Homo sapiens: one gene and its partner. The protein of the gene in region 1 interacts with the protein of each later gene in a biochemical or structural test. Each region holds a gene or a part of one and is shown on either strand. Other genes may lie near its edges. The genes, in order: PELO and SRPX.

The links.
Region 2: the proteins of PELO (region 1) and SRPX form a complex in vitro, tested with the Homo sapiens proteins (one study listed by BioGRID).

The regions. Positions count from the first base shown.
Region 1 is NC_000005.10:52,785,716-52,802,229, forward strand, and holds the start of PELO (protein pelota homolog), read left to right. Parts: upstream 1-2,200; 5' UTR 2,201-2,638; coding exon of another isoform or gene 2,639-2,699; intron 2,700-14,089; exon of another isoform or gene 14,090-14,169; 5' UTR 14,170-14,679; coding exon 14,680-15,405; intron 15,406-15,693; coding exon 15,694-16,125; 3' UTR 16,126-16,514. Other genes in the region: ITGA1 (integrin alpha-1 precursor), read left to right, coding at 2,639-2,699. UniProt on the Homo sapiens protein: Component of the Pelota-HBS1L complex, a complex that recognizes stalled ribosomes and triggers the No-Go Decay (NGD) pathway.
Region 2 is NC_000023.11:38,164,791-38,181,304, reverse strand, and holds part of SRPX (sushi repeat-containing protein SRPX isoform 1 precursor), read left to right. Parts: intron 1-2,960; coding exon 2,961-3,020; intron 3,021-6,953; coding exon 6,954-7,145; intron 7,146-9,247; coding exon 9,248-9,424; intron 9,425-16,409; coding exon 16,410-16,514. UniProt on the Homo sapiens protein: May be involved in phagocytosis during disk shedding, cell adhesion to cells other than the pigment epithelium or signal transduction.

The DNA of each region.
Region 1 (16,514 bases):
ATCAAGTCTCATTTAAAATAGAAAAGTATGTAGTATAAAGTCTAGAGCTGAAACATTTGTCATCAAGTGTCTCATATCAATAACTAGTTTGTGACTCTGGGCAAGTTTCTGTCTTCTCTAAATCTTTACTCAATGACATGTCTTTCTGTCAGTCAGAATAAAATTGGTTAAGAAAATAACCGGCTTGACATTTATTTGTATTTGGGTTTATTGAAGTTCAGAAAATAAGCACTGATTCTAAAATTAATTCTCTAACCATAGTTATCTCTCAGTCTCTACATTTGTATTGACTAGACATATAAAAGATTCATAAATATGTAAACATGTAAACATAAAATTTGTAACTTGTGAAAATTAATTGTAACAATATCACTGTTAGTGATGGTTATCACCAATAATTTGTAAGTCCTAGAGGAAATAAAAATATTAAAATTGAAATTATATATTAGCCCCCAGAAGAAAGGTAAATTTCCCAGTAATTGTAAACTTGAACATATTATATGTTAACCCTACTTTATTTCAATATTTTACAATTTCTTTTTGTTTTTTCTAATGAAATATATTGCAATTTGCTAAAATGCCATATATGTATTTGCATATGTATGTATATGCTGTACATATATATGTACACATACATACATACACATGATTGTGTATATATAGACACACTATTATATGTTTTTGAAAACTAAGCAATTTGGAGAAATATCATTGGGAAAGTACTTACTATGATTTTTAAATGTCTACGAATTAATCAATATCTATTGGTTACTGTTCAAAGCACAGAGAGTCATACTGAGAGGCATAAGACATAACTGATACTACCAACAGGGAAACGAGATATACACAGGAAATGAATTCCTTGGCAGGGTATGAGAGCATTGAACACAAACAAAGGAACTTAAGTAAAGTCCAATGGGATTGAACTGTGACCCAACATAATACAATTTTTCTAGAGACTCATTTGTGTAAATTTGAAGACAGAACTGAGAAATGACATTATAAAAACTAAAAACGGGAGAACGAGATTTTTAATGTATTTACTAAATAGTGAATCAGTTCAGATACATAATAGAAAAGGAATTTCTTGATTAATGGGTCAACATACTGAGATCTGATGGCCTTCAACCTCCTTGGGTCTGCCCACCCCATTTTTGACGCTCCTTAAACTTCTTCAACTTTTGTCTTCTCCAGCTTTTAGTTGCTGTGATCCTCTATCTGGCAATGTATCCAGTGAACCCTGTGGGCTTCTTCCTTCCTGTCCCTCGTGTTACCTGTTCTGTGCTACCTGTGTTGCGTTCTGCTCAACGAACCCTCCTTTGGGTGGCACTCTTGTCCTGCCTAGCCCTAGTTCTGCTAGAGATGCTCAATTAGTTGTTGAGTTGAAGAATTGAATTGAACTGTTTCCCTCAGATTCCTCTAAACACAAATCCACTTATTCTTTCTGTCTTTGAAATTCTCAAAACCGCTAAGACACAGCTATTTTGAAAATAGCCAGCATTGGTTGAAGCTAGGGTGAATATGGCTTTTGACTCAGAGAGGTTGTTCAACTCACCAGGAAAGGGAAGCATTGCAAGTTCCTAAGCACTTCTGGACTCTTAATGCATTTTCACTCGTGAAAGTTTCAAGCAAGAAAAAAATAAAGTAGTGCCCCGAGTTCTTTATTAGATTCAATTACCAGCGTACAAACATCCTAATTCACTTAAACAAAATAGCCCACACACATTCCATTTCCAAGGAGGCTGCTTTTCTTCCTCTCTTCCCTTCTCGCTCTCCCTCTTACTGTTTTTCCTCCGTCTTGCTTCTCCTTTTCTCCCCTTATCCTAGTTATCTCAAAGAAAAGCTTATCTGCAACCACCCTTTAACCACGAATTACCATAAACGAAGCAACCCCCCCACCCCCCCATAAGCGAAAGCAAAGCCCTCAGTGGAGCCTGTCGGGGTGGTGGGGACGCCCCCTTTCGTGCAAAACGACTTCACGGTGAATTTCAAGTGTCCGCAGGGGATGGAAGGGGGGATTCCAGATCCTCGCATTTTCACAGACGGCCTAATCCCTCTGCGCAATGGACCCGGGAAAGCTGCCTCCCGTTAAGGGCGCCCAGGCACTGTCAAAGCGCCCTCCCTGCCCGGGCCGGGAGAAGTAAGGGGTGTGAAGGCGGAGCCACTGGGCTGGCAACACCCTCCCGAAGGTCCAGCCCTTACCCGCCTTCCTACCACCTTAGGGGATTTGGCCCGGAGAACGAGATCACCCTCTCAATGAAAGGCAGATGTCCCTTTAAGGTTTGCTTCTACAGCCCGTGGACTTTAGCCTAAACACGGACCCGCGAAGCTGGCTTTATTTGTCCATGTCTCGGACAGAGCCTGGGAAGCTGCCAGTGAGATTTCAGAGACCAAGAGCGCGAAGGGGCGGGCGATGTGGCAATCCGTCTGGGATGTGAAAAGCGTGGAGCGCATTTAGAGGAATTCGACGAAAACACAGGAAATCACTCCTCTCCCGCTCCTGGGCGCCGCTGCCACTGGGGCAGAGGACTGGGAACCGCGGCAGCGGGATAAGTGGCCCAGCCAGAGAGCGCAGCTCCCGCGCCCGGTCCTGCCCTGCGAACCAGCGCGGCCCCCTGGCGCTGAGGCTGCTCCGGCCATGGCCCCTCGGCCCCGCGCCCGCCCAGGGGTCGCTGTCGCCTGCTGCTGGCTCCTCACTGGTGAGCGACTCGCTTTTCTCTGAGCATCTCCTGCTCGCGGGCTTGGGGCTTGGAGCGGGGAGGGAGGTCCTCAGAGCCATGGGCCAGATAGGAAGAGAGAGCGCCCATCCACTTTCGGGCATTCCAGGTACTCAGGCCAGGCTACGGGGCAGGCAGGAGTTTCGCGTTCTGGTTTTGATATGAATTAGTTTTCGTGTCTCTCCAAAGTCCTTCACCCTAGGAGTAGGAGTGAGGCAGCACTGAAAACCTTAGAAGGTAGAATTCACTTTTAAAATTAAAGTTGTTTTTACAATACACATTGTATATTAGGACTTTGCTGAATATTTCCTCCCCTCCACCCTTTTTTATGGCATGGGATGGGAGGGTGATGCTTATAGGGCGCCTGATACATATGCAAAATTCCTACCCTCGGGTTGTTCCAGAGTGGACATTATTGAATTTTCTTGCTGTCTACTATTTAGGCTTTTTTCCCATGCAGAACAAGAAAAGGCAGGGATGCAAGACGAAACTGCCACTTGTTCCAAAATGATGTTTCTATGTCAGCACCCAAGAGGAGGGATATTTTGAAACGTAGAAAGGAATGGTGAACATTTTCTCTGTAAATATCACAGGGCAGTCTACTTTTAAGATGCAAAATATAGTATTGTTATTTGTACATAAATGTGTATTTTTAAGGAGGGGACTTAAAAACATAGTGGAAATGCAAAGTTGTATCCAATTTAGAAAAAGCTTGAAATATAGCATTTTGTAAGATTTTCCCAATAATGAACTCATGGTCAGATCTTTTTTACCAGTTACTGATTGGGGTGGGGGAAAGTTGAAATGGTGAAAAATGGAAGAAGGTGGGGGGAAAGTGTATCGATAGAATCTCTGTGTGAAAGAAAATCACCTTATTAATGGGTTAATTAACAGCTGGCTTTAACATATCATTGATATTCAATTGTTCAGTGTTTTTACTGCTGGCATGGTTATTAGTACTAGTTAATTTAGCATTTTTACCACTAAAAACAGGGTAGAGCCAGCTAGTTTAGACCTGCCTTAGATGGCCAAGCATTGTTAAGTTTTATGAAGATGATTTAGAAGTTGATTATCAGCAAGCAGAGCTTTTTTCAGAAGGGAGGTAATGTAAAGAGAGTTAATAATTAGCTACTGGCTTTTCATCCAAACATTTCCCACTACTCAGGAAATGTCCAATAATCCAAACAGTGGTAACTGCTGAACAGCATTATAGCCGGTGAGTGGTTTAACTTACCAGCTACTGCCACTACTTTTTACACATATTTGACCTATGATTCTTCTCCAACTCAAATTTTTTTAGATTGTATTTTGTTGTTTTTGTGCAAAATCTGAATACAGTAGTTTACTATCCAAGTTGTACTTTTTCATTCTACCAAATAAGCAGTCTCTAGAGTAGAAATGATGAAATGAGGTTTGCGTATCCTCTAAAAAGACAAGAGTGAAACTTGAAGTAACAGAGAAGTTTAACAAGTTACAATTTCATATATATGTTGGTGAAATATACATTGGTGAATCCAGGAAGAGACTTAAAATATTTAGAAACCTTGTGTGCACTATATTTATGCCCATTTCGCAACACATGAGGGATCTGAAATTGGACTGCTTTCCCATCAGTCATTATATTCTGTAGGCTCTTCTTTAGCAATCTCTTTCAGATTTGGAAACTTCTCATCAATTCAGAGTCCGTTTGTAACCTGGGGACTCATCACCATACTTATCCATGCACACTACTGTAGAGCTTATCTTTCTGTCTTCAATTTGAACCCAACTTCCAGTCTACCCTCCTAATACATCATTTTTACTATATCTGTTTTTAGTCAAAAATCTTTGGTGGTTCTTTGTTGCCTTTAAGATAAAATCCAAAATTCTCAACTGACTGCCCTAATCCAACACCCTCTCTCTATCTCCTACTACTCCTATGTCAGTTTCTTATTGCTGTTGTAACAACTTGCCATAGATCACCAGCTTAAAACAACATAAATTTACTATTGTACAGTTCTGTAGGTCAGAAGTATCACTGGGCTAGAATCAAGATGTCACCAGGGCTGCATTTCTTCTGGAGGTTCTAGGGGAAAATCAGTTTCCCTGTTTTCACCAGCCTCTGGCCACCACCTGCATTCTTGGCCTGTGGCCCCTTTCTCCATCTTCAACCGAGCAGGGTAGAATCTTCAGATCTTCCCCCATGACTCTGCTTTATCATCACATCTCCTTCTCAGACTCTGACCCTACTACCTTCCTAAGGATCCTTGTAATTACAATGTGCCTACCAGAATAATCTCCTCATCTCAAGATCTTTAATTTAATTACATCTTCCAAGTCCCTTTTACCATCTAAGATAACATATTCACAGGTTCCAGGCATTAGGTCATGGATATCTTTGGGAGACCATTATTCTGCCTACCACAACCCATAAGCATAAACTGTCCATTATAGCCAATCACTTTTCTTTACTTTCTCCATAATCCTCATGTTCATTTTGCCACTGAAGATATGACCTTGTTTTATACATCGAGAAAAGAATTCCACCTTTCCATCCTACCACCCTCTGACATCTAAATAAACTCTCTACAGCCTTCCAAACTGGGTTTACATCAGAACAACAAGCCACCAGCATCCCAATAAACTTCCTATTTGATTTAGACTGTCTTATATTAGCTCCTTACAACGTTTACTAAAATGATTCATCAAAAAGATGTCCTTATGTCCAAAGGATTGTTATTTTATGTATGTCAAAGTCTCAGCATAAACTGATGTCACATATAAAGGATTTAACTGAAGACAGTTTCATAAAGTGACAGTTTAGAGAGGCCTTAAAGGAACAAGAAAAGAGGGTGGAGCATCTAGCGCAAGCAACAGTAGGGAAAAAAGAACCTGAAGCAAGGTGAGAAGAAAAACCATGACCATTCCTAGGCCTGAGGAGGTGGCAGTGTTAGTTTGATTATGAACTCTAGTTATGGGAGGGTGGCCATTAGACTGGAGTTGTGGTCATAAAAAGGAATGCAGCTAGTGACAAAATTGAAGCCCAGCAGAGAAGGAGTAAGGAAAATAAATATACCTCCTTTCCTCCCACCCTCTGATGTCTTGCTCAGCCTTCCCATTGGCCATCCCCAAATGGCAAGATCCAACCTTCCAGAGAACAAAGGGCAAGACAATCAATAACAGAATAGCTAGCACAACTTAACCCCGAAATGTATTATGTGCAAGGCACTGTGCCAAGGGCTTTGCATGTATTATTTCATTTTAATCTAAAAAATTAAGTTTACTAATTGATCACAAGCAGTCACAGATTTCTTTGTTCTTTTTTCACTCCCTCAGCTTGTTGATTAGCCTTGAAAAAAAGAAAAGAAAAAATTAAAACTTTATAACTATTATCAATATTTTAGAGATGAGGAAATCAAAATATAGTATTAAGAAGTTAATTTCATTTGTCCAAAGTTGAAGAACTAATGACAAATCTACTCAATTCATATCTCTGACCTCAAATTAAATGCTCTAAAATAATATGCTATATTGGCTGCCTAAAGATAAGTTCATTCTCTCTTGCTCACTCCTCTAAATGTGAAATCCAAACATAGTTGTCTAAAATACTTGGATAAAGACCTAATTAATGATACAAGTCAATCTTTTATTTCCATGATTTTTAGGTGTACAGCATTAAGTGTAACTCAAGTAAGACTACTATTTCTCGTTATTAAGAATATAAATATAGAATTAGCCCTAATTAAACTATATGTCTCTCTTCCCTAGAAACATTTTGGTTGGCCTAGAAGCAAGGGTCTTCTTTTCACAGGCAAGATTTCCTATTCAAAATGAAATCCAGTGAGGAGATGGGAGATGGCTGAATATGGGGAGGAAGTCAGCCACTTATTCAAAACAAAGAATGACTCCCAATGGCAGACAATGTATTGTCAGGAATTGCTGAAGATGGTGAAAATTGTCTTACTCATTGTGATGTTTGTAAAGGCAGCAATGAATTCACGGGATTTTTGTTTGTTTAGTAAACAGGCAATGAGAGTAACCATGAGACACATATATATGCTATACTAGTTTAACTATTTCTCTTCCCTCCTGTCATAACACTTACCCAGCTATTTTGAAGCATGAGCTCTTGGGCCACAGCTTATCACTGATGTTCTGACTTCAGTAGATAGATGCTCCTCTAACATGTTCCTCCACTTCCAACCCAATAAACTTCCCACTAGATTTAGAACTTGCTGAATTTCCACATCTTAACATATTTTAGTAGAATAAAGTAGCTCATGTTTAAAATATATTTAGAAAAGTTGGGGACTAAAATGCTATTCTTTACCTACACTTCTCTTCTGTTGTGTGAAATACAAAATAGTGTACTCAAATTCATGTTAAGAAACTGAGATGAAAGATATTTTGAAACTGTTGCCACAGTGCTAAAGTCAGAATAGATTGCCTATTCAGAGCAGTCTGTGACTGGAGAATTGTATTCGCCCTCAAAGCAAGTACAGTAGAGTATCAAGAGATGCAAATGACTGCATATATTTCTATCTTCAAGATTATTGAGCTTCTTTCAGCTCCTTTATTATGCCAGCTACTCTAAAGTCTCCTTGGGGACTTTGCATAAGTAGTTACTCCCACTGCTACTGATCTCAATCCCTGAATAAACGTCATTTCCAAGAGATACCCTGAAGTAGATTGGACCCTACCTTAGGACATGTGTATCCCAGCACCTTTGCTTCTATTATATAATGCACCACGGTATTATAATTAACTATCTAATTGCCTGTCTTTCCAGCTTGCTGTATGCTCTGTGAGGGTAGGATCTTTAACCATAACACCTAGAAATAATAGGCACTTTTTAATTGAATGAATCGCAAAAGAATTGACTATTGACAAACTCAGAAAATACTTAAGGGATCAGATTGTCCCTTTATTATATACCTCTGCCTTATTTTATTATACCTCTGCCTGAAATATTTCTGTCTATCCAAATTTATAAATAATGGAATGGAAGACACCATCAGTTGAAAGATGCACCATTATTTTATGTACCACTAAAAAAGACAAGCCACTCCCAATCCAATTATAATTGCTAGATTGTTAGATAGTTCCTAGTTTCAGAGATGTCAAAATTGGGAAAATGTGCGTCTGAAAATTACAATCAATAATATACAGTGTATGGTACTTTTTACCATGGTACTTTTCTATTTGTTTGGACACTTAAAAATTGTGTCATAAGATTTTGAAGAGGCTAGTATGTGAACCCCATCTAGATACAGAGATATAACATTGTTCCTCTCAGTTCTCTTCAAGTGCCAAGTTTATATCTGATTTAGGGGATAATTGCTCCTCTGGCACCAACAGCCTCACCAGATCCCAAAAACAGAGCTCCCTCCAAATGCTCTATCTTTAGAAGAGAGCTTCAGGAGAAAGGTGACAATAAAGTAATCATATAATGTTCCAGTTGCACAGGATTAATGACTCTAGCTTTGGCAAACTCTTAACTTTTTGTCATGTTGGTGGTAAGCTCCAGGGTTGTGTATATAGGAAGAAGACTAATTTTAATCAAAACTTTCCTATGATTTAAAAGGAAGATAAAAAAGTCAACTAAGTTTTAAAAGGAAATTAAAATGCATATGCTGGTTGGTGTTAGGAATTCACTTTATGTGTTAAAAAAAATCAATTTTATCCAAACAGGAGATCCCTATTAACAAGATAAGTAAGAGATCTGAAATGAGAAATCATTGTAATTCAAATATGCAAAGGAGTGGATACACATACTCTTTTTGTATGAATTATATGAGATCTCCTAAAATAAATGCAAATTCTTAAATTTAAATATAGCACCTAAGTCACTTTAAAACATCAATAGTTAAGATGGTTTATATATTTTGTTACAAATCATATATCCTTACTACAAATTAAATGTACTTTCAAAATTATTTTATTAATTAGACTTTTATTTTACCAAATACTAAAGTCTAGAAATACATGGGTACTGGCCAATCCTTAAAAATATCTGTGTAACACATTTTACTTATAATATTTTTGGTGAAATGATCTTATGCCGTATAAGAATACATGCAAATAGAAATACACACACACACACACACACACACACACACACACACTTCTGTTCATAGGATTTTGTTTATTTGGTAGGAGGTTTTGTATTATTTTGTGACAACTGCAAGTAAGCACTTTCCATCATGAGAAATTTAGATAGTGAGTGAGTACAAGTTCCTTAAAAAAAAAAACAAATAAAACAAACAAAAAAAACCACTTTCCCTTTTACCCTTTTGTCTATATTAGCTAACTAATCCTCCCAGTCATCCACTTAGCTTTGCTGGTGGAGGTCACATGGGAACCTTTGCACAATCTGAGGTTTGCACATTCTCTCTAAATAAACAATTGCGTTTATCACTAGATATTCATAATTGGAGCTCTGGCTTCTTATTTTGTAAAGTTCACTTTCCAAACCATGTATAATAAAACTAATTGCCATTATGTGTTATTCTAAAATATTTTAAGAACTTTTCCTGGGGAAGATGTATTTTAAATTACCATTTTCTTACCTAAGCACGGCTATCTCAAATATTGAAATAGGCTTATACAAACTTACCTTAAGAGTAACCTTCTTTTTAAGTTTTTAGTAACATTATAAAACAGAATGTGATTTCCTAATTTTAGAATGTCAGTTACAGACAAGTTAAAAACTCTGAATTAAAGAAAAATTAATAACCATTAATTTTTGCATACTAAAAATATGAGTATGTGCCACTTGTTATGCTGTGTTCCAGGAGAACAAAGACAAATAAAAGGTAGTAAGTCTCTGCCTTTACTGGTGGAAGAGGTAGTAGACATGGAAAGACACAATGGTGGGAGAGGCTCCCAAGGTGCTTTATAAGGAATAACAAAAAGATTAGGTTTGTGTTGCAGGAAAGTAAGCCTTCCAAAATAAAATACAAGATGAAAACAAGAAAATTTATACAGCCCCGACTGTTTAAGGGTCACAAGCTAAGCAGAGGGTATTAAAACAAGATTTCCATCTTTCAGGAGCCCATAATTCCATTTCATGTCATACAAACCATTTCTTTTATATTATTATAATAGGAAAGATAGTAATTCAACTCACCAATGAGGTCCATGAACCATTTTATTCAGTAGAGCTGAATAACATAAATAACATAAATAAATGTACCCCAAAGATTATCCATCAGTCAACTCTACCAAACCAGTTATTTTTCCAAGGCTGAATAATTATGATCATGTTAAAATGAGCTCTTGTCCCTTGTTTTGTCTGATCCAGTTTTCTAGCTTCAAGCCAGGCATTTTTAGAGCTCTATAATTTATTAATATCAAGTATCATAATATCACTAGGACCTCATAAGGATGGTCAAATGAGAGAGCAGGACAAATAATCTTATTTATCATTTAGAATGAAAAATAATTAGCTTTATTGCGGTCTGGGACTTATTTCAAGTTGGTAGAATCCATCCAGGAAAGACCATATTTGAGGTCTGCCAATTCTTGGTCCACAAACAAGAAACTTTGAATCAGTCTTTCACCTCTGAAATGGGTCTTAGAAAAATCAGATTTGAAAGATAGCACGCAAAATTGAAAACAAATATGTTAGGATGAGATTATAGGTGTTGTTTAAACACTTAAAAAATATTACTGCAGCATAATTTTTAGTTAGAAATTTAATTATTGAATTCAATTCCCTCAATTCTTCAGTGAAATAAATTGGGTTCCAGAGAGACTGAGTACTGCCAAAAGTTACAGTAAAAACAATTGAAGAGTAAGAGCTACAATCCAGGATGCTTGACTTCTAGCCCAGTTCTCTTCTTGAGACACTGGAAGTGTCTCAAGAGCAACAAATTAAAAACTTTTGGAGGTAACAATACTTTTTTCCCCTTCTGGAGAGATTAATATAAATAAGACATTGTAGGGAAAATAGATATAATTAAAGTTACTGATATAAAGATTTATACTGATATAAAGTTACTGATATAAAGTTTTCTATTTTAAACAGCCAATACATAAGTATAAAATTAGTATTTAAAGCAAAAGAGCTAAAAGCCCTGGTATTTTTCTCAATACTTTGCTCATTTGGAAAAAAATGAAAATAAATATATAACTACAGCAGTTTCTGAACTACCATTATTAAGTGAAATACAGTCAATAACAATATAAGTAAGTGCCTTAAGAAATGTCTTGAAATGTCTGTAATAATGTTAAAATAGCTGCCATACTTTACATTTGACTCACCTAGCTTATCATTAATATATGAGTGCCTACTATGTGCAAAGGACCTTTAAAAGGACAAAGGAGTATAAAGATAAATCCTTCCAGAGTTCAACAAAAAAGATACATGTTTAAATTAACATGGATTCAAGTTTACATGGTTTCAAGTTTGAGATAACATTTAAGCTGGACTTTAAAGATAGGCAGCACTAAAGGAAGCAGGGATGAAAGGAAGTGACATTTTAAACAGAGAAGTTAGTATGAGTTAAGGTAGCAAACGAGAAAGTTCCTAGCATATGTAGGGAACAAAGGTTACTTTCAAGGTGGAATATAGGGTGCCCTGAGGGGAAAAGTGGGAAGTAAATTTGTAAGGCCAGTGCAAATTGGGATTGTAGACGTTAATTCATAGGGAATGGGAATCCAAAATGAATCAAAATAAAAATATAATGATTGGTCTAGAAATACTAAGCCATAAACAAAATCTGGGTGAAAACATCTAATAGTCAACTACAGGCTTAAATTACTAAGGAAAAAAAAAAGTTCCCAACTATTGCAGTTGTTTCACATACAACAGTAATTCTATGAAAGATTTTATAGTATACTGAATTATGGAGGCACACTGATATTTTTTAAAATGGCCCAAAGTGGTTTGCCTCATAACTTAAAAAAAAATTTTTTTAACCATGGATTTAAGAGTCAATAAGGGTTTTTCACAGGTTTCTAATGTACAGATAAATATATGTATATTTTTCTAAAGTAGAACATTAGATCTTTCTCTAAGAGTATGATGATGACCTAGGCTGGACAGAAGGAAAAAAAAAAACTATGTAGAAGAGAAAAGTATAATAATTTTAAGAGGTGATAAAAGAGCAGGAAAGGGACTAGTGCCTTTCAAATCCTCTAGGTTGGTTCCCAAGCTGTGAGTTTTTGTTTAGCTGGTAAAGGTGACAGTTGAGGGGAAGTGACAGTGGATAATAGCACATAATTTGCAGTGAAGGAGATGATTACAAACATTCATAATATAGGATGGTGGTAGTAGAAAGAGAGGGTATGGAGTTATGCAGGCCTGAATTTCAATGCTAGTCATGTGATCTTGAAAACATTTCTTAACTTCCCCATAGTTGATTTTCTTCTATAAAATTAGGATAACAAATATTTACCTTACAGGGGAGAATTAGAGCATAGGAAAGAACTTGATAAACATTCAATACGTGATAGCTCTTCAATAAAAACCTTTTGTTAAGATCCCACTGTGTGCTTACCACTGTGATTCTGTGGCTTTTAATCTTTGGCAGACTATGGGAAAGATAAATTGTACTTAGAAAGATGATCAAGGAGCACTTCAAAGCCCCAGTTCAAAATTATCTCCTCATTCTCTCTCTCTTTCTCTCTCACAAATACACACACAAGCACACTTTCACCCTACCAATTAGGAATTTTAAGTTAACAAGATACTTTTTTTAAAATACAGTGTCCTTTGGATAGGCAAATCACCTTCACACTTGAGTGTGATTAGTTCTTTGCTTAGTGAAAAGTTGCTGGGTTCTCCTGGAATTGGAAGAAGGCAATGTGAATTAGGAACTTCTTGAGGGTACTCAGTATGATAGGAAGGTGGGAAGAAGGAGGAAGTAAGGGGAGACATAGAGAGCGAGAAACAAAGAGAAAAGAGGCCACAAATATTAATAAGTAGTGGTTCTTATTTGGACTTTCCCCTTGGAGGGGACCTTTCCGTCCCCTGATAATCTCTTAGGAAGATAATGACACTTAAGTTTAAATTGTGAAGCCTGTCAGTTGAGAAAAATGTTGAGACAAGTCTCAATCATTTTAGGACGTTTATTTGCCAAAATTAAGGACGTGCGCGGGGAAGACAGGTCTATGCCTTTCTGGGAAGATGATTTTGAGGGCTCCAAATTTAAAGGGGAAAGGGTGGGATACTGAGAAATACAGTTTTCATGTGAGAGGGTAGCAGGGGGAAAATAGTCATTCATGCCTCTGTCTGGCTTAGTCAATCTGAATCTGCATTTTTACGTAAGATAACATAGACAAATGGGGCAGGGGAACAATCAGATATGCATTTGTGTCAGGAGGGCAGAGGGGTGACTGTACCTGAAAACAGAAGCTATCTATTTACATTGCCATGGTAAATTTTCATAGAAACACTTTATGGTAAAGATCTTGGCGCTCACTGAGAATTTCCTTGTGGGCAAAATATGAGCGAGGTGTGTAGCTTTTCATCTGGTAGCCATCTCATTTAAAAACCAAGAGGCAAGGCAGTTTTGCGTGACCCAGTTCCCAGCTTAACTTTTCCCTTTGGCTTAATGAGTTTGGGGATCCGAGATTTATTTTCCTTCCACACGCCTATGCCAAACTCAGATTCCTTCCTTTCATCCCTGTTTCATCTGTTCAGGCTGGTTAGTTCCCCTTTCCAATCCACACAGAGAAAGACAGAAAAGACAGTGAGAAGCTATGTGTGCAGGACTTCTCTGCCCTCCACTCCATCTAAGCTCTCAAGAAACTTTTAGATTCTTTTGTTTTTTCTATTCATCGGTCTCTTAAAGAGGCAATCCCACTTCTCCATTTCCACTTCCTAATAAAGAATGCTAAGTAACTTAAGGATTTTCTTTAAATTATGTAGCTATTCAATCAGGGTCAGTCCTAGTTAATAGTTTTTCCCCACTTCCCATAGCCTCGGCTTTTAGCTTAGCTTTGGCAGTGAAGATCTGGCCCTAAGCTCTTGCGACCCAACCCCCAACCTAAACATTTCACAGGCTACTGGGCTGCGGAAAGCTGAGGCTGCCAACTTTGGAGCCTAGGATTCCCAGGACATCAGGTCAAGCAACTGAGAGGTCCACCCAGGGGTAAATTCCACACATAGTTTCTTCTCTCTTGGGACCAGCGCTTTAACATCTGGGTGAATCAGATCGTGCAGACACGGTAACTAGGCGCAGAAAACAGCTGGACACGTTGCTGGGAGCCCAGACAGAACGTGACCAGTAGTTCTCAGAAACCGCTTCTAAATACCAGCTCCAACAGGCTTGTAGCGTCCGAGTGCGGATAAGGCAAGAGCAAAAACGAGCATAGTTTGGGCCGTTGGGGCCAAATCTGCACTTCTGAGAGCTACTTTTACTGCTAAGCTTTGAAATTGGATTTACCCAGAGGGAAGCGTTGCAGTGGCAGCCGCAGGCAGGTAAAACTAGTATTTGCACTCACACACTCCCCGGATTCTTCACAGACAGGGATGGAAGAGAAAACTTAGGAAGTTGAAGTTTGGCATTAAAATAAAGGACTCGCCACCACTCTGTGCACCTTCTTGAGGGAGTTCATTCGTCCGGAGCGCCTCACAGCTTAGTGCGCCTGCGCACGCGCGAACTGCGGCCCCGCCTCTCCTTTGGGGACGGGAGACGTGCGTCGGGTCGCGGGACGGGGGCTGCGCATGCGCCTTCATTTCGTCAGCCCGCTGTTGCGTGCTGCCAGCGGGAACTGTGTAGGGGTAGATTTTCGCTGCAGTGTTCCCCGAGCCTGTTAGACGCAGCGCGCCGGGAGACTGAGAGAGGAAAGGATAGAGGAAGTGCTGCCCTAGGCTGCATGAGTCGAAGCAAGCGTGTTTCCTTCCCGCCAGGCAAGTGCCCTTAGAAACCGGGCCCCGCCCCCTTCCTGGCCTGCATTCCCATCCCCTCTCCCGGGGCGGAGGTGAGGACCTCCTTGGTTCCTTTGGTTCTGTCAGTGAGCCCCTTCCTTGGCCATGAAGCTCGTGAGGAAGAACATCGAGAAGGACAATGCGGGCCAGGTGACCCTGGTCCCCGAGGAGCCTGAGGACATGTGGCACACTTACAACCTCGTGCAGGTGGGCGACAGCCTGCGCGCCTCCACCATCCGCAAGGTACAGACAGAGTCCTCCACGGGCAGCGTGGGCAGCAACCGGGTCCGCACTACCCTCACTCTCTGCGTGGAGGCCATCGACTTCGACTCTCAAGCCTGCCAGCTGCGGGTTAAGGGGACCAACATCCAAGAGAATGAGTATGTCAAGATGGGGGCTTACCACACCATCGAGCTGGAGCCCAACCGCCAGTTCACCCTGGCCAAGAAGCAGTGGGATAGTGTGGTACTGGAGCGCATCGAGCAGGCCTGTGACCCAGCCTGGAGCGCTGATGTGGCGGCTGTGGTCATGCAGGAAGGCCTCGCCCATATCTGCTTAGTCACTCCCAGCATGACCCTCACTCGGGCCAAGGTGGAGGTGAACATCCCTAGGAAAAGGAAAGGCAATTGCTCTCAGCATGACCGGGCCTTGGAGCGGTTCTATGAACAGGTGGTCCAGGCTATCCAGCGCCACATACACTTTGATGTTGTAAAGTGCATCCTGGTGGCCAGCCCAGGATTTGTGAGGGAGCAGTTCTGCGACTACCTGTTTCAACAAGCAGTGAAGACCGACAACAAACTGCTCCTGGAAAACCGGTCCAAATTTCTTCAGGTAAAACAATCTTACCCAGGGATAATTAAGAATGGGCAGAGGGATTGGTATAAACTACTCCTAAAGTTTTAGAACTGGGAAAAATAAGAAGAGAAAGTCTTTACTTAGCTGGGATTTTCATGAGATAATGAAATAAAAAGAGAATGTTAAATGTCTAGCAAATTTATGGAGTAAACTTCGCTGAAACATATGAAGCCTTACTAGCGCTTTTGGCTTTAAGCCTTTGTGAGCTGATTAATGGGTGTTCTAGGAGATTATTTTGCCTAACTTTTGTAATTGTGATTCTAGGTACATGCCTCCTCCGGACACAAGTACTCCCTGAAAGAGGCCCTTTGTGACCCTACTGTGGCTAGCCGCCTTTCAGACACTAAAGCTGCTGGGGAAGTCAAAGCCTTGGATGACTTCTATAAAATGTTACAGCATGAACCGGATCGAGCTTTCTATGGACTCAAGCAGGTGGAGAAGGCCAATGAAGCCATGGCAATTGACACATTGCTCATCAGCGATGAGCTCTTCAGGCATCAGGATGTAGCCACACGGAGCCGGTATGTGAGGCTGGTGGACAGTGTGAAAGAGAATGCAGGCACCGTTAGGATATTCTCTAGTCTTCACGTTTCTGGGGAACAGCTCAGCCAGTTGACTGGGGTAGCTGCCATTCTCCGCTTCCCTGTTCCCGAACTTTCTGACCAAGAGGGTGATTCCAGTTCTGAAGAGGATTAATGATTGAAACTTAAAATTGAGACAATCTTGTGTTTCCTAAACTGTTACAGTACATTTCTCAGCATCCTTGTGACAGAAAGCTGCAAGAATGGCACTTTTTGATTCATACAGGGATTTCTTATGTCTTTGGCTACACTAGATATTTTGTGATTGGCAAGACATGTATTTAAACAATAAACTAAAAGGAAATAATCTCCACGTACTACCATCTTGATTAAATTGTGTAATTTTTTATAGGAATTATGAGTTATCTGTAGTACTTGGAAACAGAAAATGTGTGTATTTAAAGACGATGCCTATGCAGTATATTGTTTGGGATAGATTGCAAAATTTCACACTGCATGCTTTGAAACAGTTTTCCTTAGAAAAAGCTTTTGCTATCTTATCCT
Region 2 (16,514 bases), on another chromosome or scaffold:
TATCTTACTAATCTGTGATTCCCCTGCTGGGCTATCTGCCCATGTGCATTCTCTCTTTGCCCCTGTTTTCCCTCTATGCCCTGTTTGGGCTCTGACATCCTGCTCTGGCCTACCATGCCTCCCTGTCCTTTCTGGTACAGATGTCTGCCTTGCTCTAAAGGCCTTAGAACTCAGTTGTTCAAGAAGAGAAGATTAGGAAAGGGTAAGAGGTCTCCTTGCTTTGTTAAAAATTACCGTACATATCTTTGTATTTCCCAACAATTTAGTGTTAGAAGTTTTTGAACTTTATAAAAAAGGAGTCGTATATATAGTATATAGTCTTCTGGGACCAACTTTGCTCACAATATTATTTTAGTTTTATTCATCCATATTGTTGTTCTCACACATGAGCTTTGCCATATTTTAAAATCTTAATGCATTTTTGCATTTTGGGGGTTATGCTTCTTTCTTTATTCATTCAGCATTCTATAATATTTTCCCATGTTAAGAAACCTCTTCAAAATGAACATTATTATGTTATGAATGGATCATAATATGATTGACCATTTCTTGTAGTTGGATATTTAAGTTAATTCCTATCTTAGAATGTGGTAGATGAAGAAGATAGAAGAAAAAAAGGCTGAGATTTTCCATGTGGCAGAGTAGCTGGAAGATGGTTATTTGCTGAAATGGGAAACACTGGGGGATGCACAAATTTGGTGATAAGAAAAGGAATCTGGTTTTGAGCAGGTTGAGTGTGAGTGTGGAGATATCCAGACAACAGTTGAAGATTCTAGCTTGGCTCTTAGGAGACAGTTCAAGGCTAGAAACAATGGATTTATCATCAGTACATGGGGAATGGTTTGAGGCAAGTATGGGAGTGAGATGGCCCAGGAAAATAGTCTGGAGATATGTAAAGGACCAATACTGGACTCCTGGGAAATACTTATGTCCAAATGGCAGGCTGATCTAGATGTGCTGTCCAGAGAGTCTGTTTAGAAAGGAGGAAGAAAATCGGGAAACTGTTGTCATTTGGAAGCCACTGCAGAAGAGAGCTTCATGAAATGAATGGGTAGTCATTCATACTAAATGCTGTAAATACTGTAGACAAGTTAACCAGGATGACAACCGAGGGCAAAATATATGTATGTGTGTATATGTGTGTTGGAGGGCTGGGCGGGGGGAGAAAGCTTGCTGCTCATGTATCTGGATTTTTTTTTAATTTGGATGATTGAAGGTTCACATGCAGACATGCAGTTCAACTGTTTCCTTGGGTAGATTCCTAGAAGTGGAATGACTTGATCAAAGGGTTTGAGCATAGGCCTTTGATTCATGTTGTTAGGTAGGTTTCCTGGTTTTCATTGTTTTTTGTTTTGTTTTGTTTTTGAGATGGGTTCTCACTATGTTATCCAGGCTGTTTTTTGAACTCCTGGGCTCAAGTAATTCTCCCACTCAGCCTCCCTAGTTTCTGAGATTACAGGCATGAGCCACTGTGTCTGGTTCCAGTGCTCATTTTTTTATATGCAATGATGAATAGTTTGTAATTTTGTACACATCTGGGTGTGCAGAGACAAGGTGAGGAAATCTGCAGCAAAGGAAAATACAGAATTGGGCTTCTGTAGTTGCGGGTCTTTTCCTAATGAACACAGTCCAGCCCTCATCTCCTCTCCACTTTCAGTTTCCACACTCTACATCTCTCATCCAGAACACAAGTGGAACAGGGACCATTACTCATTAGCTGCATGGGGATTTGAATAACCTCACAGTGGAGGATGTTCTTGTCTGTTATGGTGGCAAGTAACTACAACTAAATGCGTGACCAAGACAGAGCTAACTCGAGTCATTAATTAGACTGTGAAGTCTGGAGGGAAGTTCTCTGAATTTAAGATTACAGTTTTGAAGTTTGGCATCTGCTACCACTTCAAGGATTAAGGATTTACTGCTCACTGGAATTCAATATTTAATATTTTAAAAACCATTCAGCTCCAGCTTGCAAATGAGTTAAATTAAAATAATACACAGACGTTCTCTCTGAGGCCGTGGTTTTTATTGGTAGCAACGCTCATTAAGAAATTTTACTGGCTGGGCACGGTGGCTCACGCCTGTAATCCCAGCACTTTGTGAGGCCGAGGCGGGCAGATCATCTGAGGTCGGGAGTTCGCGACCAGCCTGACCAACATGGAGAAATCCCGTCTCTACTAAAAATACAAAATTAGCCAGGCATGGTGGCACATGCCTGTAATTCCAGCTATTCAGGAGGCCGAGGCAGGAGAATCCCTTGAACCCAAGAGGCGGAGGTTGCGGTGAGCCAAAATCACACCATTGCACTCCAGCCTAGCAACAGAGTGAGACTCCGTCTCAAAAAAAAAAAAAAAAAAAGAAATTTTACTTGAGCCATACGTTCATGAGAGGTTCTAAATAAGCACACAGATAGTCTATTTCAGCCTTCATTTCCTACAAATGCTGTATATAGAAGCAACTTTGTGTTTCTTTTGTCAAGATAAGACATTTGATTTACCTCCTTATCTTGCATTTAAATTTATTTCACAAGATGGACCTGTTTTCAGGTACCATAAACACCCAGTTCTACTGGGTTTTCTTTGACTGCTGGGGAAACTGTGGACTGTGTCTGATGCACACATTTTATTGCATCTCCCCTGGCATGAGATTCATATACATTGGCATCTTCTCAGAGTGAAGTTGACTCTCTCTGTTTCCCTATTCCAGAATTTCACTTGGCATATGGTGATTCCAAAACAGTTTGAGGCTCATTTTGCTTGGTTTTTGGCAATCTCAGCTCAGCCGGTTTCACTCTGAGAGATCTCCTGTTTGTTCCTTCATGAATGGCCACAGAAGCTTTTGCTCTTGGCTCTGCATTCTAATAGCACCTCCTGCATGGTCTGTGGCAAAGGAATGCTTTGAAATATGCGTCCATACTATGTGGCTTTTCTTGCTGCAGTTTCTGTTCTTTTTTATTGTAGGATCGGGAGACTCACCACTAGAAGACGATGAAGTCGGGTATTCACACCCTAGATATAAAGGTGAATGCTTTGCTTATGTGCTAATGAGGACCTGCTGGTGCCAGGAGAACTTTCCTTTTTGCCTTGTGAAACAGATTGTAATAAAGTGACCAGACAACACATTTAAGTTCTAATTATCTATCAAGGAAAAAAAAATATATATATATACTCCCTTTTTTAAAAAAGGAAATAAAGCAAAATGCATTGGAAATCTCTGAAATGCTGTCTTTCAGCATCCCAATGGTCATTTTATTCTCATAAGTTTCTTTACTGTCCTCACTTCTGCAAAGGCAGCTGTAGCTGATGAAAGTGAAAATCAAGCCTAATTCATACATTACAGCCAGAATCATCCAGAGTAAACCACCTAAGGTCAAATCTGGACCAAGTGCTGATAATGTACTAAGATGAATGGGGAAGGAGAAAACTTGATTTTCATAAGCTCATTTCATCGTGCTCTTTCTGAGCCCAGCATGGCTTCTGAAACGGTATGTTAAAGTATGTTGCTCAAATGAAACTTAATGATAAAGAACTCCATCTCTACATATTCCCAGCAATCCACTCCCCAGCACGTATAAAAAGCCTAAACAAGAACCTTCTGTCCAGACTCAGGTAAGTATGTCCACAAATATTTCTACTGGTGAAACATTTCTCTGAAGCTTAGGGAAACCTGGGAGAAATGAAGGTAAATTTAGAGATGCTTTCTCTCTGAATCTAGTTCCTCTTACAGTGGAGGAAGAATTTGAAAAAAAAAAAAAAATGGTTAACAAAGTTTCACTGCGGCATTTTGCCCTGGAAATTTGTCCTAATTCCTGGGATGAGGACATGGCCCTTGTTTGTTGTGATGTGTCTCAGATACAGGAGAATCAGGGTAGGACTGGACAACTTTTGACTGGAGATGTCCTTCAGTTGTTTTCTACACAAGTGAACAATATTTCCAATATAATGACTGGTGCCTGGTGCTTATGTGCAGGTGTGCTTCCCATCACATACCACATTTTTTTGTGAGATCTGAATGCAAATACTCATTCCTACCTATAGTTTCTATCTCCATAGCCTCAGGAATTAACCAATCAAGCAAAGCACAAATACGTTAATCAGATGCTTGGGGTAAGGAAAGGTTCTAATTCGCAAAACTTCTTAACTATTTATGGGTTTAGATTTTTTTTTCTTTGAGTCCCTTGTTGAAAAATCTTCCTAAAACACATGCATGCACAGATGACCCTTCACATCTACAGCAGGGGTTGCCTAGTGCCCTCAGGTCCTTGTTCTTCACATCCATCTTCACCTCACAGCATTGCAAATGTGACAGGTAGACCAGATGGCCAAAATGTGTGCTTGCCCTAGAACTTACCCTGAATGTTTAAGAATAAATTTTCTTAGGGCATTGTTTCTATTGTCAGTTAAATTGCTTACTGGTAGCAATCATTTCAGTATGTATAAGTATATCAAAGCATCATGTTGTGCGCTTCATACAATAAAATTTAAGTTTTATTTATTTTTATTATTATTTTTTGAGATGGAGTCTCACCCTGTCACCCAGGCTGTAGTGCAGTGGCGTGATCTTGGCTCACTGTAACATCCGCCTCCCAGGTTCAAGCGATTCTCCTATCTTAGCCTCCCAGGTAGCTGGGACTACAGGCACACGCCACCACACCCAGCTAATGTTGCATTTTTAGTACAGACAGGGGTTTCACTATGTTGGCCAGGCTGGTCTCGAACTCCTAACCTCAGGTGATCCACCCACCTTGGCCTCCCAAAGTGCTGGGATTACAGGCGTGAGCCACTGCACCTGGCCAAGTTTTTTTAATTTTAAAAGCTAGAGACAAGCCATTATTAAGTGAGGGTTTAGTTTTAGATCCTGAGGCCCCTGCACAATGTCCAGCACAGAGTAAGTGTTTTTGAATTAAAGTAAAATAAGAAAGAAAATTAAATGTAACCAACATTTACGGTGCTCCTGGTATGTGGCAAGCATGGCTTTTGATTCTTTTGCTTGGAATACCATCATATATTCATATTAATTGAGTGAGTTTGTGATGTATGAGTATGCAGGTCATATATATACATACATTAGTTCCCCCTTATCTGCGGTTTCACTTTCCAAGGTTCCATTTACCTTCAGTCAACCGCAGCCCCAAAATATTAGATATTTTGAGAGAGAGACAGTACATTCACCTAACTTTCATTACAGTATATTGTTATAATTGTTCTATATTATTATTAGTTGTTGTTAATCTTTTATCATGCCTAATTTATAAATTAAACTTCATCATAGGTATGTTTGTGTAAGAAACAAACAGTATATATAGCGTTAGGTACTATCCAAGGCTTCAGGCATCCAATATCCCCCGTGGGCAAAGGGGGAGTACTGTATATCACAAATATATGTAGTACATACAGATTATATTAAAACCCTTAGAGGAAGGAAAATTTATTCAAGGAAGTTCTTTAGGCCTTGTGTGAGCTCCTACACGTTTATATCCACATGGTTAAATTTAATCAGCTCTAGGTTAAGCCTTTAGGACATCACCTTTACCTAGAAAGTCCAGGGAAGATTACTTGAGTCTTGAGTTTAGGGCTCACTTGCAGCTGTCTGCAAAACATGATATGACGAAAGTATTAGCCAGACCAGGGACGGTGGTGCGTGCCTGTAGTTCCAGCTACTTGGGAAGCTGAGACAGGAGGATCACTTGAGCCTAGGAGGCCGAGACTGCAGTGAGCAATGATCATGCCACTACACTCCAGCCTGGGTGACAGAGTGAGACCCTGTTTCTAAAAAAGAAAAAAAAAAGAGAAAGTATTAGCTGAAGGAAATGTGAAGGCAAAACTAAAACAGTGGTCTATGCATAAGACGTGGCCAGAACTGTTGGTTTTTGTAACTGAGAAGCAGTTGGAGGCATATCCTCAGAAGAGAATTCCTGGGAAAGTAAAACAGGGTCTGTCCTCCTTCCTGGCCACATGATGGCGGTCTTACCTCACTCACTGACAGCTCAGGTGCTGGGTTGGAGTGATGAGCCAGGCAGTTGCAGGGAAGTGGCTCCTATTCATGGCATTGAGAGCCCGGCAGGCTTTAGGGAACTCCTCACTGTTCCCCATCAATTGTGGGACAATGGGGCAGTGGCTGCTGTAGGAACTTATCCACCAAGGAGCTAGTGTTGCCCTTATATTTTATGGATCTCAAAGAGAACATTTCAAAAGCACAGCAGGGAGGTTCTGATTTATTCATTTCATCCCAGCTGTGCTTTGGGCAACTATGAGACCAAAATCAAAACACCTGCAACTTTGCCATCTGGGGAGGGTGTCACCCTGTTACGTAAATGGGGCATAACTGGGGACACTTCTCTATGGAGAGCAATTGTTCTGTGACTTTAAGCGAAATTTATATCTTGTTACAAACACCTGGAAATTGTAGCATCATTTAGATTAATGCCAGTATTACAACATTTTAGAGAGAATGTGCATACGGCTCAGACGAAATCCAAATTAACCAATTATTGAATCCCTACCGCTATGTATGACATCAGTTGCCCTTGAAAGAATTATCTAAAAAATAAAAATAAAAAATCTTATGTATCTAGTTAAGGGAAATACTAAAAAGAACAAGCATTTATTGAACATATATGCTAGGTACTGTGCTAGATGCTTGATATGCAATTTTTATTTCGTCCTTGTAACAGCACTATGGCATAAGTATAGATATTGACTCAGAGAGGTTAGCTAACTTGTCTAAGATCACACAGTCAGTTATAGAGGAACTCAGATTCATGTTCAGATATATCTGACACTTAGTCCCATGATCATAACCTCCCTACCCGGAGACACCTAAGAAAACATGGGGCACTAATTGAAGGTCCAAAATTTGGAATGTAGCCAGCCTGGGACAGTAAGAGTAAGGGGACACATTTTCTGAAAGTGTCATTTCATATTTATCTCCTCTTTTGTTTCTGCTACTTGTAGATACCCCGTGGTGCTCCCCCATCAAGGTGAAGTATGGGGATGTGTACTGCAGGGCCCCTCAAGGAGGATACTACAAAACAGCCCTGGGAACCAGGTGCGACATTCGCTGCCAGAAGGGCTACGAGCTGCATGGCTCTTCCCTACTGATCTGCCAGTCAAACAAACGATGGTCTGACAAGGTCATCTGCAAACGTGAGTAGGCCAGCTCTGTGTTGGGTCCTCAGGGATGACCAGAGCCAAAGTTCTTTTGCTCTGAGATTGAGGATTTTCACTGAATATTGATGAGAAAAATTCTCCTTATGATCAGGGGGACACCAGGGGGATTCTAAGATATGGTGGAAGTGAGTTGGCTCCTCTCAGAGAGAATGATATGATCAGCTGTTTGAGAAAAGGGGAGAGAAGATCATTGTTCAGAAAATGAGTTACATTTGTTCAGTTAGTGCTGGATCCTGAAGAGGTGTTGGGGATTTAGAAACAAATAAGACGCACATGGGTCCTGCCATGAAGAGGCTTTAGTAAGGCAGAGGTGTCAACTGGGAGATAAGTACAAGAAGGGTACAAAGTCAGGGACATATGGTAGCAGATTAAAGAAGAGTTCTCCTGGCTGGGCGCAGTGGCTCATGCCTGTAATCCCAGCACTTTGGGAGGCCGAGGCGGGTGGGTTGCCTGAGCTCAGGAGTTCGACACCAGCCTGAGCAACACGGTGAAACCCCATCTCTACTAAAATACAAAAAATTAGCTGGGTGTGGCAGCGTGCATCTGTAATCCCAGCTACTCAGGAGGCTGAGGCAGGAGAATTGCTAGAACCCGGGAGGCGGAGGTTGTAGTGAGCCGAGATTGTGCCACTGCACTCCAACCTGGGTGACAGAGCAAGACTCCATCTCTTAAAAAAAAAGAAAAAAAAAGTGTTCTCCCAAGGAGTGGGGCTTAGGGAGGCAGGAAAGAGTCACAGAAGAAGTGATGCTTATTTATGAAAGTGAGTGTGCCTCAAGGGAGAAGCTTAGAGGAGCAGCATTTCAGGGGCTGGCTTTTAGCTTCATGACAAGTCATACCTCATTTGGAAAATTGCAAGTGGTACAGCATTGTTGAAGCACATTTTAGATGTCTTTGGTATTCAAAACAGCCACCACTTTTTGAGCGCTTATGGTTTGCCAAGAATTTCACATACATTTGATTTTTACAGTAACACTATCAATATGGGTGCCATTATGTTAACTTCATTGTCAGGGAAACTGAGGTTTCAAGGCTGCAGCCATGTCATCGAGACTATGCAGACTCTGCAACTGGGTGACTGTAGTGGACAATCTGCTCTACCCAGATCTCCTCGATGCCTTTTACTAGTTGTATGTATCCAGTACCCAGCTTCTGAGTACTTTGCTCTTAAAGACTTGGAACTTCAACCTTATTCAGAAGACTGCTCCTTCAGAGGACTGATCCCACTCGCTCTCTCTCTCTCTCACTCTCTCACTCTCGTTCTCTTTTCACAAGAGAAAGCATCTCCTGTGAGCAGCCTGTAGCTGCCCAATGACTGACTGATAAAGAATTATGAAAGCCCAGCTTCCTTGCCTGGGGGCAGGACAGAATGAGCTGTCATTCACACTCCAGAGCTTCCCTATGGGATCAGGCTGCTGCTGACTTTGCCTGAGATCTCATCTTGCCTGGATTTCTCCCCTTCCCTGTTCTGCTTTCCTCACCCCCTCACTAGTCTCCCTGGGAGCACTTTCTTACTAAACCTCATGCACATAAATCCGTATCTCAGAATCTGCTTCTGGGGAGCTCAACCTAAGATAGTGGCTTAGCTGGGTTGCCAACCCAAGCCAGTGTGACAGGAAACTTTGTGTCTTCTGTGTGACATAAAACCATCCATTGTTTCTTAAATTCCATTTGTTTTATTTATTTATACAAAGTCGTGTTCTTGTTGCCCAGGCTGGAGCGCAATGGCGCAATCTCAGCTCGCCGCAACCTCTGCCTCCTGGGTTCAAGCGATCCTCCTGCCGTAGCCTCCCGAGTAGCTGGGATTACAGGCATGCGCCACCACGCCTGGCTAATTTTGTACTTTTAGTAGAGATGGGGTTTCTCCATGTTGGTCAGGCTGGTCTCGAACTCCCGAAGTCAGGTGATCCACCTGCCTCGACCTCCCAAAGTGCTGGGATTACAGGAGTGAGCCACTGCGCCTGGCCTTCTTATATTTAAATTAACTTTTCACCTCATGCTTTCAGAGTTTCTAGACTCTGAAATGAAACTCTATAGACAAAAACTAAGAAATGCTGAATATCTGATTTTCTCATTTTCAGAAAAGCGATGTCCTACCCTTGCCATGCCAGCAAATGGAGGGTTTAAGTGTGTAGATGGTGCCTACTTTAACTCCCGGTGTGAGTATTATTGTTCACCAGGATACACGTTGAAAGGGGAGCGGACCGTCACATGTATGGACAACAAGGCCTGGAGCGGCCGGCCAGCCTCCTGTGTGGGTAAGAAAATGCCACAGCCCTTAGGAGGCACTTGCTTTGGGAGGAGCAGGGGGTGTTCACATCGTGGATTGTAAAGGGAGCATCACTATTCCTCCTGTAAGGCCTAAGCATGCAACTTTGCTCTCAGTAGCATCACTGGTTCTCTGGCTCAGCCCTAGATCTAACCTCAGTGTCTATCCTGGAGCTGACTTCGTAGCTGATGGCTTCCATCTGACTTTTGTCTTTTTCTTGGTTTGCTATTGAGGCAACTACAGGCTGGCAGAGATGTGGCATACTCCTGCTGATTTTAGTTCGGGGGCCTGAGCAAAGTTATTGACACTATAGGGACAGTCCAGTAGAGAACATCTATGTGTCTTTCAGCCCCAATGTAGCTTCTTTGTCATTGACTCTGGTGGTCAGCAAGCACTCAATTTGTTCAGCTGGAAGGGATTTGGATATTTTGCCTTACTCTGGGTTTGTTGGGCAGTGAGTGGTTCCCATGGTGTGGTCCTGGGAGCAGAAGCAGCAGTAGCATCTCCTGGTCTAAGAATGCAAATTTTTACCAACCCACCCCCACCACCTGCTGAGTCAGAAACTTTAGGGGTCAGGCACAGCATTTTGTTTTTTAATGAGCATTCCAGGGATTGTGAGGCACTCAAATAGAGAGCTACTGATCTAAGGCACTGCTTCTCAAACTTTACTGTGCAGCGAAGTCCTCTAGGGACCTTGGGAAAAATGCAGATTTAAATTCAGCAGGTCTGCGGTGGGTCCTAGGATTCTGCTAAACGATGCTTTAGGGCAAAGTTTCTGAACCTCAGCATGATGGACATTTGGGGCCAAATAATTCTTTGTTGTGGAGCCCTGTTTTTTTTGTTTGCAGGATGTTTAGCAGCATCCTTGGATTTTATTCACTAAGTGCCAGTAACACTGCCCACAGGGGGCACCTCACAGATGTTGCTTTCAATATCCTCCCTGTGATTAGCTATGTGCATAGCTCTTCAAAACAAACCAAAAAGAAAATTGAATCTACTCCCTCATATTGGAAGGGGCAGAGGTGATGGTGGGAGGAGAGAAGCTCAAAAATCTTTCTGCTAAGCAAGCTTTGGCAGAGTACTCTAGGGATCATACTGTTTAAATTTCCAGATTGTGTGCAACAATGGAAAGAAAATGCTGATTGTTCTCAAAAACCAACAGCATGTCTTAAGCTGGACCAGATGCGCCTGGAACCTTCCCAGAGGAAGAGAGAATGAACCCCAAATTCAGGAGATTCATATTACAGTTTGTCAGAACAAGGTTCAGGCATATTTGGGAGAAGGAGGATTGTACATGCAATTAGTTAGGGATGACAAAAAGGGGTACAGCGATCCACAAGAGAGCCTAGAGCTCCCAGGAAAAAAGAGAGAAATGGGCAAAGCAAGCAGGCAATTCTTTCTTTGATTTTCGCGACAGACAAGCTGAGGTTTGTCCCCAGTGAATTTTACTCCAGGGGTATTATTTACTTTTTTGGCTTTAAATGTATTAAAATAGTTTAATAAATTTGTTTTTGTGTTGACAGGGGTAGGGGGTCCTTGAGCGTAACTCAGAACTTCAACCTATTTTAGGAGGTGACACATAGTGGCTAAGTAGTTCCCAGATTTCCACACAACCTTCAACAGTCTTGGCCAGAGCTGTACTGAGTGGTGAGAAAGTTGTCCCAGTTCTCTTCTAGACTGTGAGGGAAGAGAGAAGACTGGGCTTACTTTGGACTCTGAGGTGGTCAGTTCTGTGGTCTGGCTAATTTGAAGGTGCCACAAGTTAAAATTAATTCTCTTACACAGACCATACTCTGGCAATGAGCTGAAATTCATAGTTATTTCAGAAACAGATATAGATAAAAATAAGTCAATGTAGGAGGAAAAAAAATACTGCAAATTGCAGGAGGGTAAAAAGTCTTTGAAGAGCCACAACCTCCATTGATCTGGAAGAAAATAAACCTTAGAATGTAACCACTATTGTTTTCGGGGGATATTTTTCTTTCTTTCCATTTTTAGTTATTTTTGGTTATGTTGGCATTTAGATAGAACAATGAACAGTTGGAATCACAACAAGTCCTCATGTAAAGACCAGATTTTGAGTAGACACATGATCTCTCCTTTAGACCAACACTTCTTCCTAGGCCAAAACAGGAAGAAAACAAATTAAAGATACTTTAAAAACCACGGACAATGAAAAACCAGCAAAGGTCTTTTGACATTCAGAGAGTATCCATTTAATTACTTTAACAAAAGACAATGTACAAACTTTCCTTTTTGCCCTGTGGAACGGATTGTAATAAAGTGACCAGACAACACATTTAAGTTCTAATTATCTATCAAGGAAAAAATATTTTTAAATAAATATATTTTATTTTTTGCTCACTTATTTTTTGTTTTCTACAGAGTAGAATAGGTGGAGATTTATTAACACAAATGAAATTCTGGAATAAAACATTTTGGAGATGTAATATATGGAAATTGATGGCATACGTTTCTTGTGTCCCAGCTGTCTCACAGCTGGTTTACCCAATGACCCATAGGAATGGGATCATTGCATTATTGCTGGGCTGCATTGCATTATTCAGTTGATGCAAACATCAGTAGGGCTAAGAATGAATGTATCCATGCATTGTTGCAAATGATGTTAAATTGTGCTAAATTCTTCCTGGGTTGACAAATACACATTCTTTTGCAAACTTTCAGAGGCTAGTTTCAGTTAAAACAACTTGATTGACTGAGATACTGATTCACTTTTTCCCTTACATGATTTGTTAGTACAAACAGAACAGGTCAACTTTTAGTGGCTCTCTCTAATATAAATGTATCACCAATGAATTTTTATTTGGGCTTCTTTCTTGTGAAGATGTTGACTTTTAGAGATGAGGTCTCATTATGTTGCCCAGGCTGGCCTCTTGCTATGTCGTCCAGGCTGGTCTTGAACTCCCAGGCTTAAGTGATCCTCCCACATCAGCCTCCTGAGTAGCTGGGGCTACAGGCATGAGCCACCACACCCGGCTATGATCATGACTTTTAAATGTGGATTTCATTGCCTCCCTTCTTGCCTCTTTTGTCTGTTTTGGAAAGTTCTCTGGATTTTTGTATGGTGCCAAACAGAGGAAACCACTTCCCAGAGCCATCCACAGAGATTACGCTCTGGCTGGGGGAAGCAAACAACTGGATGAGTTTTCAATGGCCAGGTTTGTTCTGCATTTGGCAGTCACTCACTTCCTATGCCCCCTTGAAAAGAACTCTTCCTTTCTCTATCACCAAACTCAAACTATTTTATATTTGCATCAGTGATCTGTTGCTGCACAATAGACCACACAAAACTTAGTGGCTCCAAACAACTATGTTATTGCTCAAAGATTCTATGGGTTGGAAAGTTGGGCAGAGCTCTGTGGGGACAGCTCATCTCTGCTGTATGTGGTAATGGTTGAGGTGACCAAGTGGAGCTGGAGGATTCAAGATGGCTTCACTCACAGGTCTGGTACCTCAGTTGGGAAAAGTTGTACTGACTGGGGTCTGGCTGAGTCTCTTTCTCTCTCTCTCTCTCATTTATAATTTCTCATCCTGATTACATGGCCTCTCCAGTCAATTGGACTTCTTTAGATGGCAGCTGGCTTTTAACATAGTGAAAGCAGAAGGCACCAGATTCTTTGAGGGCCTAGGTCTGGAACTGGCACAGGGTCACTTCCCTTGCATTTTATTGTTATCTGTTGGGCAAGACTTTGTCCTTTTGAGCTTCTTCCTTATTTCCACTACCTACCGGGTTAGATGTGTCAAGGATTTCCAAGTAAATAGTTCAGCTTCAGCTGGGTGCTGGTGGCTCACACCTGTAATCCCAGCACTTTGGGAGGCTAAGACAGGCAGATTTCTTGAGCCCAGGAGTTCGAGACCAGCCTGGGCAACATGGCAAAATCCTGTCTCTACAAAAATAAATAAATAAATGAATAAATAAAATCAGCTAGGCATGGTGGTGCATGCCTGTAGTCCCAGCTACTTGGGAGGCTGAGGTGGGAGGATCACATGAGTCTGGGAAGTCAAGGCTGCAGTGAGCCGATATTGTGCCACTGCACTCCAGCCTGGGTGACAGAGTGAGAGCCTGTCTCGAAAAAAAAGTTCAGCTTCTTAGATAAATAGTAGTTGATACAATGCAATATATTTGTATCTCATATTTTATATGCACAGAGATAACTAGAGCACAGAGAAGGGAGACAGTTTGTCAGATGTCTCCAATGAATGTGGCAGAGAGCAAAGGCCAGAATTTTCACTGAAGGTTTCAAGATTTTTATATAATTGCAGGCATCCTAATTCAACAGGGGATAGTAATTATGTTTCTATAGTAACTTTGTTCCTTTCATTCATGGAAATGTATAACTTATAAAATGCTATCGGGGCCAAGTCTGGGTAATAACAGGCTTAGGTCTCTGGAGCATCAGCTGAAGGGCAGACCAGCTTGTCTCACCAGCCGAGAGAGAAGGCAGCTGCTTGAGGATGTGTCAGGATCAAGTCCTGCAGAGGCTCTTCAAGGGTTCATGGGGAAGCTATGACAGACCATCACAAAACAGTATGTGTGCAAAGGTTGGCGGAAAACACTAGGTCAGCAGCAGGCAGATACACAAAAGGGTTTGGTTTATTAAAATAGCTTTAAAATATGTAATGGCATTTAAAAATCCCAGACCACAAAGAAATTCCAAAAGAGAGGAAATGCTTCTTCCCAGTCTATAAATGAGGATGCTAATAACACTGCTTAGTCTAATGGGTGGTTGTGCAAATTCAGTAAAATAATATAGGGAGGGTACTTAGCATGGGGTGGGCATGTAGGAAGGAGTCCTCCAATATTAGTTATTATTTGTAATGATTTATTTCTTCTTGTTTCTTCTTTGGAAGAGCACTGTTTCTGAAAAGCTAGGCCAGTTCAGCTGATCATTGTTAGCTAGAGATAAGCTGGCTTTGGGAAACTCTGAGACTCTTCACCCAGATAACCTATCTTGGAGCCTGTGTGCTTACACTGTTAGTACATCTTGATACAGAAAACAAACAACAATGTATCATCCAGACATTTAGTTTACCTGACAGAGACTAAGTTGCTTTTCACTCTGACCATGCTGCACCAAGAAAATATGGTAACACAATGTAATTTTACATTGAAATCTGTATGCTAATAAATATACTTTCTATAATGTAATTGCCAGCTATATTTGACCAGCAGGGGGCAGTCATTATATACTTGTCTTTCTGTGAAATGTTCATCTGAATTATAAAAGTTTGTCTTCTATCACCTATCATAGTAAAAAATTAAATGTTTTTAAAAACGTAACAGCTGAGTATAGACATCTTGAATGCATTTAAAGCATCTTCCATTTCATCATAGTATTTGTATACTTTATTTTATCAATTCTGAGAAGCGTATTATTTCTACCTTTTAATATCCCTGAAATAGGGATGCATTTCACAATTAGGAGTGACTTAGATTCAACAAAATATGGTGGTTATTCAATTTAGGATTGGTGCATTAAGGCTGTTAAGTTCACACTCCACTGAAGCACGACATAGAATGAAAATGAATTTGGATAGCTGAAGGCAAAATTGTTTAATAAGTTATTCGTAACTTCTTACCCTGAATAAAATGAGAAATTATTAGACAAGACACAGGAGAAAGTATATAAAGAATTTTACTTGGTGCATTTAGTCTCTCAAAGACATCTGTCATTCAGAATCAAAAGGACATTTAACTTTCATTAAGGCAGTAATAGCACTTAATACTTATCAGTTGATATGTAAAGTAACATGAAGCTGAATGTCCTTAATTTGCTATGCCTTCTTTAAATACATTCTCTACCTGTTCAGAAATATTAAGTAGAATTTGCAGAAATGTGAACTTCCTCTTGTGATTTCACTTCAGCTATAAGATGAAATACAACCCAGTGTAGAGTTGACATCTCATTTACTTTGAGCCCTCATTAACCACCCATCCTTGTTATCACTATCGAGGCAGAACTCCTATTACCAGGTAGAGAAACTACTTGAAGAAATTTGGGAGGCTTTTGGAGGTCCAGAGCCACAGTAAAACTGCTGTCCCAGAACATAAAACCATAAGTGTAGTTCAGTAGCAGTTCAAGGGGAGAGTGGACCCAGACAGACCATTGCCTATTTTAAGATATTAAGCAATATGTTGATAATAGATAGCAGGAAGAGAGAGAGCTTGTTCCAGTGGCAAGTGCTCCGACTTAGATTGTAATTCACAGTGCCATTATCTACATGTGTGGTCTTAAATAAATCATTTAAGTTCTTTGAGCCTCAGTTTGCACATCTGTAAAATGAGAGAGTTGGGCGGCTCCTCTACACCTCCATAGCATTCACTTTTACCTTGCCTGGGGCAATTGCCATTTTCTACCTCATGTTATATTTCATGTGTGATAATGTAATCCCTCCAATACATGGCAAATTCTCTGAAATGTCAGGAGCACATGATTCTCTTGCCTTTGTGCACCCCCAACCCCAGCAGTTGGAATGAAGCCTTGGATAAGATTGGTACTCATGAAAAATTTGTTGCCTTGAATTGAATCTGACTAGATGATAGCTAGAATGCCTTTCTGTAATATTCCATGATGCTGTGTTCAAAGCAGGAAGTACTCACTAAAGCCAAATGACTTCTAGTTTCAGCTGGGTAACTGCCATGTGGCCTTCGGTAGGCAGAGTTTGGAAGCATGGGGAGGAAAGGCTGTAACTAATGAATTACCCACAGGACACCTTGCAAGGCCAGTTGATTGCAGGTTTAGCCCTGCAAATGTGAGTATTTAAACAATCTTCAAAACTTAGCAGGAGAGTAAAAGCATTATGAAGGGAGAAAAGGGGAATATATAGGGTGAACAAACTCTTTGAAAATGGAGAATACCCAGAGGCTTTGGTATTTTAAACTGTGGGTGTTGAACCCCAGTTTGACTAGATATTTCTTGATGATGATGAGAATGTTTTGGTTATATTTTCAGATATGGAACCTCCTAGAATCAAGTGCCCAAGTGTGAAGGAACGCATTGCAGAACCCAACAAACTGACAGTCCGGGTGTCCTGGGAGACACCCGAAGGAAGAGACA